Linked DNA regions of Homo sapiens. The protein of the gene in region 3 purifies or fractionates together with the protein of the main gene of each other region. This does not show direct contact. Each region holds a gene or a part of one and is shown on either strand. Other genes may lie near its edges.

What was found. Proteins that work in one complex are often made in the same cells at the same time.
Region 1: the proteins of SPATA46 (region 3) and CSNK1A1 purify together in Homo sapiens (affinity purification with mass spectrometry; 3 studies listed by BioGRID and IntAct, with this or other methods). This does not show direct contact.
Region 2: the proteins of SPATA46 (region 3) and SNX24 purify together in Homo sapiens (affinity purification with mass spectrometry; 3 studies listed by BioGRID and IntAct, with this or other methods). This does not show direct contact.

The regions. Positions count from the first base shown.
Region 1 is NC_000005.10:149,541,440-149,548,439, reverse strand, and holds part of CSNK1A1 (casein kinase I isoform alpha), read left to right. Parts: intron 1-2,595; exon of another isoform or gene 2,596-3,170; intron 3,171-7,000.
Region 2 is NC_000005.10:123,002,613-123,009,612, reverse strand, and holds the end of SNX24 (sorting nexin-24), read right to left. Parts: intron 1,932-7,000; coding exon 1,864-1,931; 3' UTR 408-1,863; downstream 1-407. UniProt on the Homo sapiens protein: May be involved in several stages of intracellular trafficking.
Region 3 is NC_000001.11:162,373,752-162,381,640, forward strand, and holds the start of SPATA46 (spermatogenesis-associated protein 46), read right to left. Parts: upstream 3,104-7,889; 5' UTR 3,040-3,103; coding exon 2,937-3,039; intron 1,653-2,936; coding exon 1,539-1,652; intron 866-1,538; coding exon 297-865; 3' UTR 1-296. UniProt on the Homo sapiens protein: Plays a role in spermiogenesis and fertilization.

The DNA.
Region 1 (7,000 bases), on a different chromosome or scaffold from region 3:
CTGCACTACTACGCCTGGCTAATTTTTGTATTTTTAGTAGAGCTGAGGTTTTGCCGTGTTGGCCAGGCTGGTCTCCACCTCCTGACCTCAGGTGATCCACCTGCCTCAGCCTCCCAAAGTGCTGGGATTATAGGCGTGAGCCACCGGGCCCAGCCTGTTAGCCCCTTTTTCTATTCCAGTTTGTATTTTTCATGTCTTGAATTAAGGACTGGGTTGCATAGTCTTTACATGGAAACAACTCAAATAAAACTGTCCTTAAAAAGAGTTCCAGCCAGGCGTGGTGGCTCACGCCTGTAATCCAAGCACTTTGGGAGGCCAAGGCAGGCAGGTTACTTTAAGTCAGGAGTTCAACACCAGCCTGGCCAACGTGGTGAAACCTCGTCTCTACTAAAAATACAAAAATTAGCTGAGCATGGTGGCACGTGCCTGTAATCCCAGCTACTCGGGAGGCTGAAGCAGGAGAATAGCTTGAACCCGGGAGTCGGAGGTTGCAGTAAGCTGAGATGGCGCCACTGCACTCCAGCCTGGTGACAGAGCGAGACGCCATCTCAAAAAAACACAAAAAAACACAACAAAAAAAAAAACAAAGTTCCAATGCTGATTTACAGTTTTAATGGAGAATTGAGTGATAAAATGTGCTATTGGTTGTAAATGAGCAAGTAAATCATTTGGAAGAAAGTTGCAAATTTATCTTATGAGGTGAAGATTAAATCTGAGATGATATAGATTTGAAGTTTTTAAATCATTCTTGCCTTTAAAAAAAAAACCTACTATGTGGGAAAATAAGGCCCCTCACCCCTGATTTGCTTTCCATTACTATAGTTTTTCCTAGAATTTCATATAAATGGAATCATACGATATGAGGTCATTTGTGTCTGGCACTTTTCACTTAACATAATGTTTTTGAGATTCATCTATGTTGGGAGATTTTATAAATTTCACAAATCAGGTTAAATTTAATGTATTTGAAATCAGTTTCAAAAAGCATTAAGCATTGTCATTTTTCAGTGCTAAACCCAAGTACAGTACATGTCCTTTTATCTGGTAGCTTTTATTTAAGACCTGATACAGACCCATAAGGGCAATGAGTAATGTACTGAATAAGCACATGAATAAATTAACTTCTGAGCAGAATTATAGTAATAGGTGCCTATTATAAGGTGGTGAGTGCAGAGAGAGTTATGGTAGTTATAAGCTGTCTGTGGGTGAGGCTAAACAGATTAACCTGACTTTCAAGTTAAGGCTTCCTGAGAGATGGGATTTCAGGATCTGGCTCTAAGGAAGAAAGCTTGGTGAACTGGTTTGGTAAGGCATCCAAGAATAGAGTGTGGCTTCTGGGTGTAGTCTCTAAAGGAGAACACAGTAATTGGATGAGAGTGTGGAAAGGGTAAATTTGCTTTAGGAGTGGTAGGGTCAGGTACATGGAAACAAAAGTGGTTCATTGGTTTTAAAGTGAAATGTAAAAAAAAAACTGTTTCCACTGAAGCAAAAAGGATAAAGATTTATGTAAACATTCTTTATTTGGGTAGCAGCATCTTCCCATCCCCCTCAGTTTGTTCCCCACTATTTCTGTATCACCTATACATGGTACATACTTAATAAATATTTACTCGGAAAGTATTGAATTAAGTTGACTATTTAGTGTTAGCTAGATAAAAGTTATGTGTTATCTATTGTTTTAGAAGTATTGTCACTAATTTAAAAAATTTAGATTTTGCTGCCTTTATCCTTCATATACAAATTTGTTCAATCCCTTCCCTATGTTTTCTGTTACAAAATTCCCTATAGGATTTGCTTTTTTTTTTTTTGACATGGAGTCTCACTCTGTTACCAGGCTGGAGTGCAGTGGTACAGTCTTGGCTCACTGCAGCCTCCACCTCCTGGGTTCAAGCAATTCTCCTGCCTTAGCCTCCTGAGTAGCTGGGACTACAGGCACGTGCTGCCACGCCCAGCTAATTTTTGTATTTTTAATAGAGATGGGGCTTTACCATTTTGGCCAGGATGGTCTCCATCTCTTGACCTCGTGATCTGCTCGCCTCGGCCTCTCAAAGTGCTTGGATTACAGGCATGAGCCACCGCACCCAGCCAGGATTTTCTTTAAGATACTTTGGTATATCTTACAACAGAGACTGAAAATTACCTGGCCTGCGTAGATGACCTGCTGAATCAGGTCCTTCCTGTGTAATTTGAGAGACCTATTGTTAAGAAGCATAGCATCCTGAGTAAAGAGCAAGGATAAGCCGGGCGCCATGGCTCACGCCTGTAATCCCAGCACTTTGGGAGGCCGAGGTGGGCAGATTGCCTGAGCCCAGGAGTTGGAGACCAGCCTGGGTAGTAGAGACAGGTGAAACCCTGTCTCTACTAAAATACAAAAAAAAAAAAAATTAGCCTGGTGTGGTGGCGTGCGCCTGTAGTGCCAGCTACTCAGGAGGCTGAGGCAGGAGAATTGCTTGAACATGGGAGGCGGAGGTTGCAGTGAGCCAAGATCGTGCCACTGCACTCCAGCCTGGGCGACAGAATGAGGCTCCGTATCAAAAAAAAAAAAGCAAGGATAAGAGAATGGCATCCATTTTCTTGATATTTTAAGAAATGAAGCTTCCGGTTCTAGGCACTTGGAGAGCCGCGGCTTAAGGTACAGACATGGCCAAGTCCACGAACCACACCACACACAACCAGTCCTGAAAATGGCACAGAAATGGTGGGCTCCAGGTTCCTGAGGAACATGCACTTTGCCAAGAAGCACAAGAAGGGCCTAAAGAAGATGCAGGCCAACAATGCCAAGGCAATGAGTGCACTTGCTGAGGCTAGCAGGGCCCTCGTAAAGCCCAAGGAGGTTAAGCCCAAGATCCCAAAGGGTGTCAGCTGCGAACTCGATTGACTTGCCTACATTGTCCACCCCAAGCTTGGGAAGTGTGCTTGTGTCCGCATTGCCAAGGGGCTCAGACTGTGTGGGCCAAAGGCCAAGGATCAACCAAGGCCCAGGCTGCAGCTCCAGCTTCAGTTCCAGCTCAGGCTCCTCCCAAAGGCTCTCAGGCCCCTACAAAGGCTTCGGAGTAGGTATCTCTGTCTGCCAACGTGAGGACAGAAGGACTGATGCAACCCCCCTGGGCTGCCGTCTTTATGGGGCTGGGGTCCTCCTGTGCTATTAGTACAAATAAACCTGAGGCAGGGGAAAAAAAAAGAAAGAAAATTCTTGGACCTTGTCAATTAATATGTGAGAGCTCACTTAAAATTACAGTTGACCCTTGAACAGTGCTGGGGTTAGGGGCACTGAACCCCAGCCCACTCCCACTGTGCCCCACAGTCAGGAATCCAAGTGTAACTTTTTTTTTTTTTTTGAGATGGAGTCTTGCTCTGTCACCCAGGCTGGAGTGCAATGGTGTGATCTTGGCTCACTGCAACCTCTGCCTCCCAGGTTCATGGGATTACAGGCGCGCCGCCACACCCAGCTAATTTTTGTATTTTTAGTAGAGACGGGGTTTCACAGTGATGGCCAGGCTAGTCTCAAACTCCTGACCTCAGATGATCCACCCACCTCGGCCCGCCAAAGTGCTGGGATTACAGGCATGGACCACTGCACCTGGCCCCAAGTATAACTTGACTCCCCAAAAGCTTAACTACTACTAGCCTACTGTTCACTGGAAGCTTCACCAATAACATGATTGGTCAATAACTATATATATATATATATATATATATATAAAGCTCTTTACCCTCATCATCCTCACTTTGGGCTGAGGAGGAAGAAGAGGGGTTGATCTTGTTTGGGTAGCAGAGGCAGAAAAAAACCTGTGTACAAGTGGACCTGTGCATTTCAAGCCCCTTTTGTTCAAGGGTCAGCTGTATTGAGTTTCTGTTAAAACCTTTTTTTGTGTGTTCCATTCTAAATTGAATTAAGTTCTCCAAAGGAACAATTTAAAAATTTTTTTAAATTTTTTTTATATAGATGGGCTCTTGCTATATTGCCCAGACTGGTCTTGCATTCCTGAGCTCAAGTACTTCTCCTGCCTCAGCCTCCCAAAGCGCTGGGATTATAGGCATCAGCCACCGTGCAATGACCCAAGAAACAACTATGACATACCGAAAAATTCTTTATCTAGATAGGTTTTGGAGGTTTGAGCTGTAGATCTGCCATGTGATATTGACTGGGTCATCTACAGTCAGTCAGTTCCTTAATGTGTGTAAGCCCATCTGTTTCCTCATTTAGAACATAAAAAAAGGATTGTTCTAATGGGAAGGAGAGTGCTGAATAGAAAGATTTAGGGCTGCCTACCCTTCTTTTGCCAGCTAAATACTCATTTCCATTTGCCTTTGCATACTGAGCTTTTGGGTAGGGTTTTGTTTGAACAAGGGTTCCCTACTTAAAAGTGTCACTGGCCTCATTGATCCTAAGGACTTTTAGTCCTGGAATTTTAAGACCTATTTTCAAAGGATAGTAGCTAGAAAAAAAGCATTCCAGCAGTTTGATATTGTGTCTACTACTTGCCTTCCTTTCTTGTTTTTCCTATTTTTCTTTCATCTTTTATTATTTTTATTTTTAGCGGCAGGTTCTTGCTCTGTCACCCGGGCGGAGTGCAGTGGCTATTCAGAAGTATGATAATAGCACACTACAGCCTCAAACTCCTGGACTCAAATGATCCTCCTGCCTCTTAGCCTCCTGAGTAGCTAGGACTGCAGATGAATACCACCTCTCCCAGCTGCCTAGTGTGTTTTAATCACTATTTTTGCCCTCTGTGTCTGAAGGTCAAATGTTTTAGAACGTATTTATAAAGCACTAGTTAATCCTTACTCTTCACTTTTAAAAGCAGCTTAATCTTATCTTTGGCACTGAGCATATATCCTGTGAATAACATAATGGCTGTTATCAGAGAATAAAGATGACGCTGCATTGGATATGTCTTCATTAAGATATATTACAGTGTCCATGCTTAGCTTGGACTAAAAAAAAAAAACCAGAAAAACGTACGTCACAGATCACGAGAAATGTGCTTTTTAACTTGAAGGGAAACTGAATTCATGGTATACTAGAGCTGCTTTATACTGGCTTATGAGATAATGTAATAATGCTAGGTAGCATTTTAAGCTGGACAAAATGTTAGAGATGTATATAGCCCTATTCCTACTAATACAAATTAGACTGTTGAATCTCAGGGGAGTTACTGGAGTGTCCTAACTTCCAGTTCTTCTGAGAATCATTATCACCCTTATGTCAAGGTCAAATCATGCCCTCTCACACACTCCACATCGTTTCATTTGATACTGGAGAGCCATCCTGTACTTCTTCACTTGTTGGCATTTTGCCTCATAGACAAGCTGAAGAGCTCTTACATAAATATAAGTAACCTATTTGTATTTAATTAGATGCTTACGATTCAGGGTGTTCTTATTCTCCCTTTTGAATCTGTGGATTGCAGGATAAAAACTTGCTGGAAATTATTAATTTGTGGCCAGGCGCAGTGGTTCACACCTGTAATCCCAGCACTTTGGGAGGCCAAGACGGGCGGATCACCTGAGGTCAGGAGTTCGAAACCAGGCTGGCCAACATGGTGAAACCCCATCTCTACTGAAATACAAAAATTAGCCAAGCATGGTGGTGTGTGCCTGTAGTCCCAGCTACTTGGGAGGCTGAGTCAGGAGAATTGCTTGAGCCCGGGAGGCAGAGGTTGCAGTGAGCTGAGATCATGCCACTGCACTCCAGCCTGGGTGACAGAGCGAGCCTCTGTCTCAAAAAAAAAAAAAAAAAAAAATATATATATATATATATATACATATATATATATATATATATATATATATATACATATATATATATATATATATATATATATATATATATATATATATATAAATTTGTATCTCATTTCGGAGTAAATGCTTGAACCCATGTAAAGTATGTGGGTTATTCCTTGGCTTTAGTCAGTGGTCCCCAGCCTTTTTGGCACCAGGGACAGGTTTCGTGGAAGACAGTTTTTCCACAGACTGGAGCAAGTAGGGGGTGGGGTGGGGGTGGGAATGATTTTGAGATGATTCAAGTGCATTACATTTATTGTGCACTTTATTTCTATTATTATTACATTGTAACATATAATGAAATAATTATACAACTCACCTTGATGTAGAATCAATGGGAGCCCTGGGCTTGCTTTCCTGCAACTACCTGCTTCCATCTGGGGGTCATGGGAGACAGTAACAGATCGTCAGGCATTAGATTCTCATAAGGAATGCACAACCTAGATCCCTCTGATGTGCAGTTCACAGCAGGGTTTGCGTTCCTATGAGAATCTAATTCTGTTGATCTGACAGGAGGCTGAGCTCAGGCGGTAATGCCAGCTTTGGGGAGTGGCTGTAAATACAGATGAAGCTTCACTTCGCTTCTATACTGGATACCGGTCAGTGGCCCAGGGATCAAGGATCCTTGGCTTTAGTCATTTCTGGACCTAGATCTTTTTTTTTTTTTTTTTTTTTTTTTGAGATGCAGTCTTTCTCTGTTGCCCAGGCTGGGATGCAATGGCGTGATCTTGACTCACTGCAACCTCCACTTCCCAGGTTCAAGTGATTCTCCTGCCTCAGCCTCCTGAGTAGCTAGGACTACAGGCATATACCACCATGCCTGGCTAATTTTTTTTAGTAGAGATGAGGTTTCACCATATTGGTCAGGCTGGTCTCGAACTCCTGACCTCAAGTGATCCACCTGCCTCGGCCTCCCAAAGTGCTGGGATTACAGGCGTGAGCCACCGCACCTGGCTAGATCATTTTGTTTTAAAGTATATTTAAGCTGTACCTAAAATATCATTAAGTCTTGGTTTTCTCATGATCTGTCACTGTTCACCAGGGATTTTTGCTGTCAAGAATGAGTGTCTTCATAACTTTCATCATTTAACTTGGTGTTCAGTGTATGCACACAGGTAAAATGATGCTTTATTGTGTTACTGTTTTTGTTTCTAATTTCAATCTCAGATGGCTCTTAAAATTTTGGTTGACTGGCCGGGTGTGGTAGCTC
Region 2 (7,000 bases), on a different chromosome or scaffold from region 3:
CTGGGTTTTCCCACTCTTGTGAGGTGTGCCTCCTGCAAATCTTATGATGTCTGCATATGACTTGTTTGACATGGGAAATAAAATTTACATAAATATAAAAAGCGAAAGTCATCACTAAGAAAAAACTTAATTCTCAGAAAAGATTTCTTGGGCAGTGTACCACTATAGATACTTGGTTTTTTCAAAAAAATTCTTATTATCTTGGTAAATCATCAAATATTTAATGAACATCTACTGACTTAATAGATGAGATAATTTATTATAATAATTTATCTTATCATATTAGAAATAAACATCTATGTGAATGTGTGAGAGGTTTTGTGTGTGCACATATGTGTGTGTGTGTGTAAACAGACAGATACAAACCATGTTTCCAGTGAAATCTTAGGAGAAGACAAACTCAAATGTTTCCTTGTTCTGTTTTTATTTAACTCCAAATAGCTAATAACATAAAAACATTTTAAAAAAATCTCCAATACCCAACTATTACTTTTGGTTGACAACATTTGATTATTTAGTTCTTGCTTGTTTCCCACATGTAGTACAGAATCTATCATAATATTTTAAAAGTTTGCAGCAGGCTTAAAACCTGAATATTTAGATCCTAATCAAAAACCATGATGTAGTTATTAGTTTTGATTTTAAATACCTTGCTCCCACAGAACTTACTAAAACGAATAACCATAAATAGGCTAGCTATTAATTAGATCTCAATGAAATGCCCACATACAGCACATACATATAGGTAGTATATATGCTTTTATCCTTTACTACTCAAAGGATGATGTACAGTGGAGTTATATCATAAACACATTTAACTTACATTAACTCAACAAATGAGGTCAGTGAAAAGGAAGCCGTAAGGAAAATAACATGAAATCCTGTGGCGATCCCACCTAAAATGAATGCACACCCTTGAGTAAACCCAGGTGGGTGCTGTCCATCCGCTGGGTGGGCGCTTCACTCCTTGTCAGTTCACATCTGCCACTAGCGGGGCAAGCATCTTGCGGGCTGATTCTAGTGTTAAAAGTTATGTGCTTTTTTTTTTTTTTTTTTAACAAAATGGCCCCTAAACAAACACCAACAACTTCACTTGGTCTTCAAACAAAGAAACAGTCTTTTTTTCCAACATAGGAGGAAAAGCTACTTGTTGTGGATGTACAGGTTTCCAACATGGCACCCTTCTAAAGGGCTTTCAAGGATCATCCTAATAGCCCATTTTACCTATGTACTGACCTTGGAAGCTAACCCCTGAGTATGATGCAACTCCACTCTAATGTAAATTAAAATGCCATGATCTTAAAAATGCCATAATATTGTCAGTATAATTTAATTTCCAGTTTAGTTCCATCTTCACATTTAGCAGTGTGTGTCTGTGGCCGTCTCCTGGTGCCAGCATTTCAGAATGTACTATCACTGGCTGAGAAAATCTCACGGTGAGAAGAGTAGTGTGTCATAAGATCTGAACAAAAAAGCTACCAAAGTTGATCAGTCTCAGTATGATTCAGGATATGATTTTCAATTAGCAAATGGTGCGACTGAAGCAGAGAGTGGCTTTGTTTTGCTACACCCAGTGCTCCCAGGAATCTCCTGTGGCCTCCTTTTCATGGGTTTCTACGCTGGCAGCTACACTCTACTTCTTAAACACTTGGCCTTAGCCTGACCACCGCCCCGGTTCAGTTTCTATTTTTAAGAGCACCATTCTAATGGAAATGTCCCTGCCCTGAATTAAGCTGGGACTGTGCACTTTACCACTAGCTAGAGCTGTTATATATCATAGCGTTTAGGTTAAATTGGTAGGTATTGATTTCCTTGACTGTGACTTCGAAACTTGCTTCTGCTTCTTTTAGCCATGTAGGATTTCTACCTGGGCTGTAGATGAGGGTAAAATATCCCATGGAGGACTCCTTCAATAACCACATTTGGAAAATCTGAAAAAAAGAAAAAAAAAAAGAAAAAAAAAAGAAAAACTGCTTTTCTTATGTGAAACAAAATATAATTGCATTCTGTAGAATGGAACAAGGCAATGCTTACGGTAAACACAGGAATCTGCATCGCCAGGCATGTGCCTGGTTGAGGATGTGCTATCAGTCATGCTGCTTCAGCCTAAAGCCACTTGAGCACACCACCAGGCGCGGCAGGAATGTGCGGCCAGATTTGTAGCTTATTGATTTAAGGGATGTTCTAACAGTTAATGCTGCTAGGCCTCAGCTCTTTATCTGAATGTTTTCTCAAAAGGAAGATGGATTACACTGGCAATTCAATTTCTAACAAAATCTCAATATACTTGAAGGAATTCCAAGATTTCTACTGGGAATACCTCACTGCAGTTTTTCCATTGTGGTTTACAGTGCATTTAGTCCAAGTTGTCCTGAGTCTACTTGTTCCATTAGACTAGCTTCGAAAGAGAGCAGTAAGATGGGGGTCAGTCTTCCTAACTTAAAAGGGCAAATTTCCAACAGAAGCCATCCTGCCAAACTTGAAAACACAGCTCCATTATTATAGGAGACAGGAAGGGAGGCCAGGGGTGCAAAGTATGTTACAGCACATTCCAGTCATTACAGTAGGTAAAATGTGAATGGATTACTTGAATGGGAACCAATCTATCTCATGGTTCAGAAGTTTAATTTTTAAACTTTAATCTGTACATAATGATATCCAGGAACTATCCTAAAGCACTTTAAATAAATATCATTATTATGTAAGAAAATAAAAGTAGTCCAATATTTTAAGAAAAAAAATATGCATCTAGCCTCTATTGTCTACTGTGTAAATAAAATCATTTACTAGGGGATTGGGCCTCATCAGAGGAGGCAGAAAGGCTCTCAGAGGCTAGGGGTAGGCAGAGGGAGCTAGCCAGGTGGCAAGTCTGTGGCCAGAGGGAGCCTGGAGGGTTCAGAGACCTAAACGAAAGCCAACATAGTGAGAAAAGTGGGAATGAGGAGGCTGGAGGGCACGGGGTGCCCCATCACACCTGGGAAGAATGGATAGGAGTTTGGGCTTTATCTGAAACTCAATGGGAAGCTACTGAGGGAGTTTAAGCAGAGTGGGACAGAGTTGAACTGTGTTTTGAAAAAGATGATTCTGGCTGCCAGCTGGAGAATGGACTGGAGAAGTTCAAAGCAGACACAAGATCAGTTTGGAGACTACTGCAGTAGTTCGAGAGGGCAATGGTGGCAGCCCAAACGAGGTTGAGGATGGAGAACCATGGAGGAATTCTAGAGAAATGAAGGACGGGACCAAGTGACAGGTTAGATGTGGCTAGTGAGGGAAGGGGTGAAGTCAAGGATGCCTCCTGGGTTTCTGGCTTGCATAATCAGAGGGTGGTGGGAGAAGACCCAGAAGAGGAGTAAAATAGAAGATCATCAACTCTGTCTGGAACTTGTGTTTGAGGCACCCGTGAGACTTGCCAAAGGGGAAGTCAAGTAAGTGATAGAATGTGGTGACAAGTTTACCTCAACATATATTTATTGAGAGGCCTCTGTTTCCTGGATCGACCACTTAATACCTGTGTGACCTTAGGTGAGTTATTGAACATCTCTGTCTCTCTCTTTCCTCAACTGTGAAATGGATTTCATAATAGTATCTACCTTATAGGCTGTTTTAAAAATTGGGGAGACAAGCGAATGAACACACAAACTATATCTTAGAAAATCTCTAATACATGAATATCCAGTTATTTCTGGTTGATGACACTTGATTTTTTTAGTGCATGCCTTTCCCCAACATGAAGTAATGGTTTTTCATGAAATATATCTTTGAAAGCGTGTGATAGGCCTTACACATGTATATTTAGAGCCCAATAAAAAACAATAATTTAGCTAAGTTAATTTTAATTCTAAATGTATTTCTCCCACATAGAAGGATATTAAAATCAATTGCCATAAATAGAGCTGTTAATTTTCTAAAAGATACTCAAATAGGACATATTACATGACGGTGGCAGACATGCCTTTATTCTTTGCCACTCACAATATAGAAGTCGATTTGAAGGTCAGTGAAATTACATTGTAAGTATATTTAGCTTAAAAGGATTCAACTAAATAAGTTAAGCAAAAAAGACATAAAGGAAAATAACATTACATACTATGGGTAACTCTACTGCGCTGGTAACATGTTAAGCAGTGACAAGAACAGGGCAAGGAGAAAAATACAGCAGGGCATGGGCTGGAGAGGGCCCAGAGACAGGGAAGTGAGGGAAGAATTTGAGTGATGGTGCCATTTGGGTGATGACTTGCAGGAAGGAACAAAGCAGCCCGCTGGGAGGGTGTCCGGGAGAAGGGCATTCCTGGCAGAGGGAACAGCAAGTGCTGAGGCTCTGTATGTATGTCCACCAAGAGCTGAACATATGCTAGATGCTGGGGATTTAGAGGACAAAGCCAAAGAACAAAGATAAGATAGTCTGTGACCATTACTATGAAGGAAGCAAATAGGGTTCTCTGACAAAAAGTGAATGGGATGGAGGTGTTTTAAAGCAAGGTCCACCAACTAGCGATCAGAAATAACATAATCAGGGTTTTGGGTTGTTTTCTCATCCGTTCCACTCTACTTTAAACTGTGGATTTTGGCTTCATCATATGCATGATTTACTACAATGTCCATTATTGCCAGCATTACTCAGTAAACTGTCCTTGACTTTGATTCTCATTGAGAGGTGATGAGAAGGAAGGTGATTTAGGGCAGGTTTTGCTGTTATTTTTGTTGGTTTTTGCTTATTTAATGAACATGTATTGTGAATGGGTAGAGGGGCTCGTGGAGAGGGAGAATCAGCACAGGCTCTCTGAAGCCGTGGCATTCAATGTGAGCCCTGGAAGATGAGAGGCAGCCGGCTATGGATGGAGAAAACAAGGCTCACGGTGGAGGAAACAGCACATCTGAGGCCCAGAAAGAATTCCAGGGTGGCTAGGGCAAAGTGTATGAGGAGGTCCAGTAGGAACATGAGCCTGGGGCAGGCCACAGAGGGCCTTGCAAACAAACCACAGGTAAGAGTCTGGAGCTCCCAGGACAGAGTTGAGATGGAGATACAATATTGTGACTCAGGTGTATACACGTGGTAGGCAGGCCACACACAAGGAGATTATCTGAAAGGAAGTGTAGTGAGAAGAGGAGAGGGTCTATGACAGCATTCTGGTCAGCTGCTAGAGAGTGGAAGGAAGTGGGAAAGCCAAGGGGAGACACTGTTTGAAGGAGGAGAAACAGATCAACATGTCTAAAGTCCATGAGAGGCCAAGGAAGATGAGGACTGAAAAATATCCATGGGCTTCAGCCACACTGAAATCACTGGGGACTTTGGCAAGAGTTGTTTTGAGTTTCCCAGGAAAATCAAAACAAAGACCAAAAGGCAAATGCTTTTCAATCTGTTAAGAGAGTACTCTCCTGATTTCTAATGTTAAAAGCTAAGGGATATTTGATTATTAGTATTTTATAAGAGGATAATGCTTAAATGTCAGATCTTTGAAGACAGACACTCCTCTGACTTTGTAGGGGGCGGGGTCAGTACATCTGTGAAGAAATTTCCATACGCAATATCCTCTGGAATAATAACCTTAATATCTTGCTAAGAGGCATCATAACAAAAATGTGATGCAAGTAAAGTTTCTCTTTAAATTAAATGCTAAAGATTTGCAAGAATATATCATTAGTATAACACTTCTAAGATCACAAGAATCTGATTCGTGAAACTGGATTGGTCAAAATTCCAAGAAAACAGATCTGGTGACTGGTCCTTCCATACCTCCCATCCCATCCATCAAACCTGTGATCCATTTATTCTCAAACAGGAGTTCCCTTATTTTGCAAGTCTTCATCCATATTACCATGCTACCAATGATACATACGTTTTACTCTTTCCAATTCAAGACATTTACCCCTGATGTTTCTTCCCAGAAAGTTCCTCCTGTTCTTCACTGTCCAAGCCAGGCATAGAGCACATGGTAGGCACTGCTCAATAAGCTGTATGAATTGGATTTAAAGGTCATAAAATATCTTCCCTCTTCTATCAAGTATCTTGGCTATTCTAGTCCACAGTAACCATTTCACTGTCTACACTTCTGCAGGAATTTCAGTCAGATGCATGACATATCTGAGCATAAACAATACATGGAAAAAGTGCTTGTGGAGCCATTTTTCAAAGATAATAAGAATAATTTATAAAACTATCTATTTAATCTATATTAGATTGCATTATGAATATTTGTTAAATATGATATTTTAACATGACATCAACTAACATGTATATTTGTTAAACATAAGAAGCAAACGTTACAGAGAGAAAGTTATTCTTCACTGCGAGGATCTTATAGGAAAAAGAATATGAGGTCATATTCCTATACAGCAAAGGCAGCTCACTCTGATCGGGGTGCTACTAGGAAGGGTCCCTCAACCCTTCCTAGGGAGGAGCAGGGCTGCGTCCTGGCCACCCTTCTTCAAACTGACAGCTAAGTGGGTGATGTGAGTACGTGTATCCTTGCTATAGAGAGCAGTTCCCTTTCTCCTGCTCATAAGGTTTTATTGTCAGAAACAGGGAGGGTTTCAATGGATTATTTATCTATTACTATTTAGTGACTCCCAGAAACAAGATTCACTATATGCAAAGAGCACAGAAGGAATACATAGGCAACAAGAGGTCCACCCATCAACCATCTGAGAGTGGACAAGTCAGGGACTTCCCTGGACCCCAATTTTCTCATTCAGTCAATGATAATATCTGCCCTGCTTAGTTCACAAGGTTGTTAAGGAAATTAAATGAGATAATGTATGCAAATGAGCTCATAAAGAGATGCATAACAGAACACTTTGAGAGGGACTCTGATGAATTTAAATTTCTTTGCACAGAGAAAAGACTCAGTCGAAAATATTGATTACAATTATACTTAGATCAATTAATTGTATTTAAAATATGCAACTTTTAAAAATATATAGTTTGCCATCAAAGATGCTGCAATGTATATACACATAGTTTCGGGGAAGAGGCTTTTTTTTGAGACGGAGTCTCGCTCTG
Region 3 (7,889 bases):
CGCCAGCCCCAGACCCATAGTTTCTGATTCAGTAGGTCTGAGGAGGGCCTGAGAGTTCCCAGGGGTTGCTGGTACTGCCAGCTGGGCACCTTTGAGAACCTCTATCTTAGATGATTTTCCCAAACTTCAAGTATTGTCTTTATTTTTAAAAGAGAGAAAGGGGAGGGTGTGTGCCTGGTGTTGCTAGGCAACCATTAGCCAAAGGTGATGAGAGCCGGGTTCTGGGAAGGACAGCAGGCTGTGCGGGGTGACCTCAGACTGGACAGAAGGCTGTGACTAACTTTATTGGCATCTCTCTAGAGACATAAGTAGGCTTCACCGCCAATTTGCCTAAGGTGTTCAGCAGGACTATTGAAGGCCTGGCAGCTGCCGGAGGAGAGCCTGTCTCCCAGCCGGGCCTTCTGCTCCTTGCTCCAGAGGGCTTTGAGCTTGCGGTAGTACACCTTGCAGCTGAAGCCCTCCCTGAAGCCCCTCTTGATGTGGCTCTTGAGGAAGTCCAGGGTGGGGTACATGCGGCAGCAGGCCACGCACTTGTAGCCATTCTGCTGTGCTGGGTGCCACCTGGAAGCCATTAGGATGTCCTGGGATGTGATGGAGTCCAGGCCATGCCTGGATTTCTTGGTGGCTTCTCGAGGGCAAGTGTTCTCTGGGGAGGAAGAGGACGAACAGATGTTCTCAGCCATGTCCTCAGAAAGGCAGTTGTCCCACTTGCCCTCATCCTGCTGCACCTCTGGGAAGTCATAGGCCTCCAGCTGGCTCTCTTTGTCTGCACACACGAAGTAGCTGTAGGGGGAGAACCAGGGCCGGTAGATAGTGCAGTTCCGCCTCAGCTTCTCTCCGTGCTGGGTATCCCCCAAGCTGCAGTCTGCAAAGGAAAGGACCAGGTCTGAGTCTCTGGCAGGGAGCAGTGGAGCCAAGGATGCTGGAGCAGAAAGGTAAGAAGGCAAACATCAGGCATGACCTCGGTTACCTCCACCCCACCACGATTGCAGTTCTGAGAGCAGACGCAAGACAGTGGTAAGAGCAGCCGAGGGCATTCCTTCTCACTGCATTCTTTTTCTAGGGGTACAAAGGGCCGTTGGATCTTGGGGCAGGAGAGGCTGCTTTTAGTTGGTAAGCCTTGGTATTTGTCGAGGCCTTCCCCTCCTGGAGACACCATGTCCACTGACTCCTCTAAGGATAGACACAGACAGGTGACCCAGCGGATAGCCAAACCGGCGGCCTCCCACAGTCCCTCTTTTCGCCACCCATGGCTGTGACCCTTTTTTCAGCCTCACTGCTCATCTTGATCCCTCCACGGCCCACTCAGCCAGAAACTGCTCTTGCACACCAGTTTCAGAGACAGGAGAGGGGAGGCAAGGCGAGAGCCCCAGGCCTGTGGGTGTCTACCAAAGGAAGAAGGGCCAGATAGGAGGCTGCAGGTGACAAGACCGCGCATGGGGGTCCAGCTTCCAGACACCTCTGCTTCCTTAGGGAAGCAGCCCCTTTTCATCCTTAGCCTCTCACACATTCCCGCCCAGAGTCAGAGAAGTCCTCACCTGGTGAGAGCGCTGTGTTCTGTATCCCTTGCCTGACAATGATGCTTTGGTACTGGGGTGGCAGGGCCTGAGCTGGGCTGGATGCCTCAGTGGGTACTGCTGTCTTTGCAATGTCTGGGTTATAGAAGAAACACTGGTGAGCTGAGCAAGGTTGGGATTCCACTTTCTGGGACTCCCCCAGGCATACCTAGGGGCTCAACCTCTGTACTTCAAGGCATCTCAACGCTGAAACAGAACAGTGACCTCTCAAACTCAGCCAGGCAGAGCTATTCTGGATGACATCCTGGGGAATTCTGAATGGGGCCATTTCATTCAGGCCTCAGAAAGATCCTCTGGAAAGTGGGATTTATGATGTAGCCCAGATGACACCTCTCCGCCTGGCCTGCCCCTCACCTAACCCTCCTGCATCTCATCACGCGGATGGCTTCACTCCGCATTGCCAGTCTCCTGAGCATCCTGGGACCCAGAGTCACAGGCTGCAGAGCAATGTTCCATGCCCGCTTTGAGGATTGTCCAGTTGAAACATCTCATACCCACAGTCAGGGTTCCCGTGGGCCATCACTGCACGGCACACCCTGGAGTGCTAACACTTGGACAAAAAGCTGACCTGCCTCAAATCCCAGAATAGCAGCTGTGTTCAGTTTGGGGGACAAATTTATAAATGTCATATATGTAGACAAATGGATGCTTAGGAGGCCTACTCCACTGAGCAGTACTTCTCCATTTTACTGTGCATAGAGATCCCCTAGGGATCTTGTTAATAACACAGATGCTGATTCAGTGGATCTGGGGTGGGAACCTGAGATTCTGCATTTCTAACAAGCTCCCAGACGATGCAGACGTTGCAAGTCTAAGGACCGTATTTTGAACAGGGAGTCCTCAGGGTGTCCAACTTTATTCCATGATGTGCTCATCAGTTTACGCTGCTGCTTAGGCTTCTCTGATTTGGCTAACTCCAAATCCTCTCCAAACTTGTCAAAACAGAGCTAAAACTAGTTTCTACTCTATGTAGACATACTGCCACCTTGAGATTTCATGCACAATCTAGGGGGAAAAACTTGATGATAAATGGAGACTGAGGCAGGAGAATCACTTGAACCCAGGAGGCAGAGGTTGCAGTGAGCCGAGATCACATCATTGCACTCCAGCCTGAGCGACAGGAGTGAAACTCTGTCTCAAAAAAAAAAAAAAAGTTTTCCCCTTTCTTCCCTTACCAAAAATCAATACACAGCAGTAACTACTTACCACAAATGCAGCATTTTGAAAAATTATTTTCTCCCCATGCGTAATTTGACTTTCTCACTAAATCATGGTCCTGTAACATGATCTGGTAGGGTACTCAATTAAAAGCTTCAAAAAAAACCACATCTTTGTGGCCCTAGTGGCACCAAAGTTTACCTGGCAGGCTGGTGGCACGAGAGAACATAATGTCGGGAAAAGCACTCAGGGCGGAGGAAGAGATTGGAGGTCCAGAGATGCTGAGGAGTGAGAAGTTCTCCATATTCTGACCACTGCGGGGGTACAGAGATCACACGCCTGCTCTGGAGAGGCTGGCTGGTTTGTCCAGAGGATAAACATTCTGAGCACAGTTGATGTCACAAGGCACATGATTCCACTACCAACTAGGTTACCCTTTGGAAGATGAATGGAGTCTACTGAAAGCAAGATTAAAATGTGTAAAGATTGTATTTGACTTGCCATTGCCCAGTGGCAGGCCCTGATTGACAATACCCAGAGAGAAGAATGTAGTAGAGATACTGTAGTGATGCTGTCTATTTGTCCCCTTTTATCTTTGTTATCATCAGTTTTCTGTGTTGACACTGTCTACCCCCAGCCCTCCAGCCCTGGAAACCTCTGTCCTGTCTGAATAATCTCCTTCCTTTTCTTCTCCTTTATCAGCCTAATCTCTGTCAGCAAATATTTTTATTGTTTTGTTTTAGTTTGTTTTTTGAGGTGTATATATTTTTCACATTTTCTTTGGAAATTCAAATTTGTAAAAGTTGCAGAAATTAGGCTGGGTGCAGTGGCTCAGGCCTATAATCCCAGCACTTTGGGAGGCCAAGGCGGGTGGATCATTTGAGGTCAGGAGTTCAAGACCAGCTAGACAAACATGGTGAAACCCCATCTCTATTCAAAATATAAAATTTAGCCATGCGTGGTGGTGGGTGCCTGTAATCCCAGCTACTTGGGAGGCTGAAGCAGGAGAGTCGCTTGAACCTGGGAGACAGAGGCTGCAGTGAGCTGAGATAGCGCCACTGCACTGCAGCCTGGGTGACAGAGCGAGACTCCATCTTAAAAGCTGCAAAAAATAAAATCAATACAAAGAACACCCTTATGCCCTGTATCCAGATTTTCCTATTAACATTTTACCCCATTTGCTGTATCCGTCCCCTTCCTCCTGCCCCCTGCCCCATGTGTATGTGTATATACTTAATTTTTTCTGTGAACTATTTGAAGGTAAGTTATAAACACTATGTCCTTTTATACCTAAGTACTTCAATGTGTATTTCCTAAGAATAGGGGCCAAATATTGTTTTCAGTGGTTGGTGCTCTTTTTAGCAAGTGACTAAAGCACAAATGGGTGGCTTACTCAATACTATTTTGCTCATTGCTTAAGTCAGTTTGATGGGGAGACTCTGGGACTCCAGAGAGGCAAGGTTGCCTCTTCGTTTCGCTTGTCCTATAACAACCTTGTGCACTAACGAGGTGTGGAATAAGGTGAAAGATGATTGTGACACTTGGAAGATAAGCTGAAGACACCCCTTTCTAGATTATCACAACATGTCAACTAGATACAGAGCAGGGCTGCAGATCTAGATGGCAGGTATGTTTATGCTGCATGGGGAGCTATGGCCGCTCTGGAAATAGTGATGGGCTTGTTTTGCAGTGCTGTCGAGCATGTGTGAGTGAGGTGTGAGTTAGCTTCTGCACGTGAGAGCCCAGAGTTGTCTTCCTGTGTGTATTTATTCACGGTACTGAAACATTCGAAGGACAATGGGAGAACATGATTCCCCTCGTGTTCCTCCCAGATAGCCTGGTTTGGAACATTAGCATGTATTGGAAAGTAAGTTGAAGCCACATACTTTGGCAGTTTGGGGGGTATCAGCAATTTCATTTGGTCCATTATGGTGTAGAGAAAGCTCATGAGTCTGGGCATCAGCTTATGTGACTTCTAACCCTGCTCCGCCATGAGCTACCTGTGTGATATTGGGCAAATCTCTCTGCTACTTGGTTTACCCATGTTATTAGTTTAGACTCTAAACTGGAATGGATGAACATCTTCCTGGCTAAAACCCAGTGACTGACATGTGGACAGTAGCATACTTGTGAGTGATGCACACAGGACCCCGAGGACTTGGAATTGCATTCTGTCTTGACCCATCACATTTCTCCGACTGCCAACTTCAGACTCTCCCACTGCAACCTCAGACTTAAAGTAAAGGGAGCTTAAAATACTGGGGGGAAATATGGGAGGCAGAATCTCTCAGTGCCTGTGTAGAGTTTTTAAAATGCGACCCGGTTTTGGTTTAGTCACTGAAAAGTTTGTGGGAGCCTGGCGGTTCCAGGGTGCACACCACTCCTCGTAGCAGGTCCCCTGTCTTGTGTGCTGTGTCCCCCCGAGGTATGCTGGTGCTGGTGGCCCAGGCAGGAGGTGACACTCTCAAAGTGACTGGTCACTACGTAAAATGTGTCTTTCTTTTGTTTGTTTCCCACCTGCTTTCCGAGCCCCTTTCTCGGACAGGTAAGATATCCTGTTTTTTTGTGGATGACTTACATCCCCAGATGCCCTCCTCTGCTTGGGTGTGTGCATGTTGGGGGGTACTGTTGGGAGGGCCACCTGGCTGGGGTCCAGTCATCTCTCTGTCCTCCATTGCCATTATTTTCTGAACCATCAAGCCTCTAGTCCTGAAGCAAGAGAGATAATGTGTGGGGGTCATTAGCGTCATCATCAAGAAAGGGACCCATTGCACATCCTCAGACATAGGGATAAAGGGACCCCCCAGCCAGAGCCCCACTTTCACTTTGAATAGAAGGGCAGTTATCCGGGTCTGACCTCAAGAGCCCCTGAAGACCACTCCCATAGAGGGAGTTTTGAGTGGTTTTTATAAATGGAAAAAGACTTGTGAGCAGTTTCCCTACAATGTCAGTCCATCATGCAATTTTTAAGAATTCATATAAAAGTCAAATTCAATTAAACAAACTTATTAAATGCCTACTATCGTGCAAGACCCTAAGCTGGGCATTGTAGAAGATAAAGAAACACTTCAGGAGCTATGGCCCTCAAGGACCTTACCATTTTAAGACAAGGTGTATTTACTGGAAAGACTTAGACAAGGGTAAAGGGAGTGCATGGTAGGCTATCTTTACATTACTTAAGAATTCAGTGCGTTATAGACTATGTTATGAAGGGTAGAGAGCAAAAAATACAGGAAATCCAAAATGGTGCATAATCCAGAGTTCTGTTTATTACAAAGAGTGTTTTAAAAATAATAATAGCTTATAATTTACTAATCACCTTGACAGGTGTTTTTGGTGCTTGCCTTTTTAAAAACGAGTATGTCTGCTCTGAAAAGTCACTTTAAACCAATAAGGAGACCACCAGGGAAATGTCTGATTTGGGAAGTGGTGGCAATTTGCCTTCCCCGGGCATTTCGTACAGTTTCATTGTTGTCTATGTACTTTCTGGTTTGGGGGGAAATAGTTAAATGGTTTGGTTTCCAAATCTTCTTTGCTAGTTTGCGGATGACGTGATTAAAGAAAATAAGAAGGATGTGGGACCTGACAGGCAAATTGTGCCAAAGTGGATGATGTGGCAAGATACACACTTAGGAGAATCATCAGGAGTTGATGACCCTGCTTGCTGTGGAGCGGGCTGGAAGCTTCTGCTGGTGTGGTGGGTCTATCTGGAGCCCAGCCAGCTTGGGCCCTGTGTCCCAGGGATGCTGTCATGCTGTTCCCTGGCAGGTCCTCACCCTGCAGTGGTGCAGGCCACAGGGCTCATCCGCAGAGAGTAGTCTCCACTTCACTTCCCACAGGTTTTCCTCCCTGCCACCCAAAGGCCCTTAGAATATGGCATACCTAGGTAGTTGGCCTAGAAAGGATAGCACCACTGAAACCACAAGAAAGGTTTTCACTGGCCCGGGATACAGCAGTGCAGGGCAGAAAGAACTGCTTTACACAAAAATTCAGCAGAAGAAAAAGTACACCCTAACCCCAGTTACTCTTAGAAGAGGCTCAGTGAAAATAGACACTTAGCAGAGGTGTTCACAAGGAAAGGAGCCTAGTCATCAAATGATCGAGCGATCTCCTTTCCTCAGACTGACAACATATCTGGGGTAGTTGGTGTAGACAGAAACCTTGACCCAGATTCCAAGGCCTCAGAGTGGGTCTGGCTGCCTGATGACTGAGCTGGATTTCCAGATAGGGAGAGGATGGCCAAGTGTGAGTGTGTGGACAGCATGGCTTAGAGCCTGGAGCTCCAGTCATTTCAATAACAAACCTTTAAGCTACCACCTTGGCCACCACAATTTTCTATCTACAAAATGGGTTTTGGCGATTCAAGATCTGTATTGAGCACAGCTAGGTACCAAACCCAGGCTAGGTGTTGAAAATACAAAGATGAATGAGGCATGCTCTCTGCCTTGCAAATCTTTACAACCTAATGGGTTTATACCCAGCTCTTTGAGTTAATTTTTCAAGCCAAAGAGGATCCCTACAAGAAGGACCATGTACCAGGCATATATAGGCAGCTGTTCCATGATCTATAGCAGGGCAAAGTTGTGGACAGAGCCCTGAGCTGTGGGTTAGAAGGCCTGAGTTCTAGCTCCAGCCCTGCTAGTATTTAGCTGTGTGACCTCAGGCACGGCACTGCATTACGCGGAGTCCTGCAGGCTTCATCTGTAGGTAGATATCCTTCCATGTACCACCTCCCTAGGTGGTTGTAAGGATTAAGTAAGCTGATGTTCATTGGGATCCTCGTGCTTCACTGGCACCGAGTTCCTATCCATTTGGTACGAACTGATTCTGAACCACCACTTAGCACCTCTGCAAGAGCTGGCCCACTCGCTCAAGGCCCACCTCTGTAGACCTGAGGAGCTGCTGCCCCATTTTTTGTGGAGAATATGTGCTATACTCATGGCCTTCAGTGGGGAGCTTCTAACACCAAGCCTCATCCATGCCATCCCTCCACCAGCTTCCAACCCACTGAGAGCTCAGCACGTGCTTACGGTGATGTAAAAATGTCATGTTTCATTGCTTCATCCTCATTTTTTCTTTACTCCAAAGGGCGTGGTGACTCCAAGGTAAAGGGGCCAAGCCCATGAGTCAAGGAGGCAGGTTTACAGGAACAAC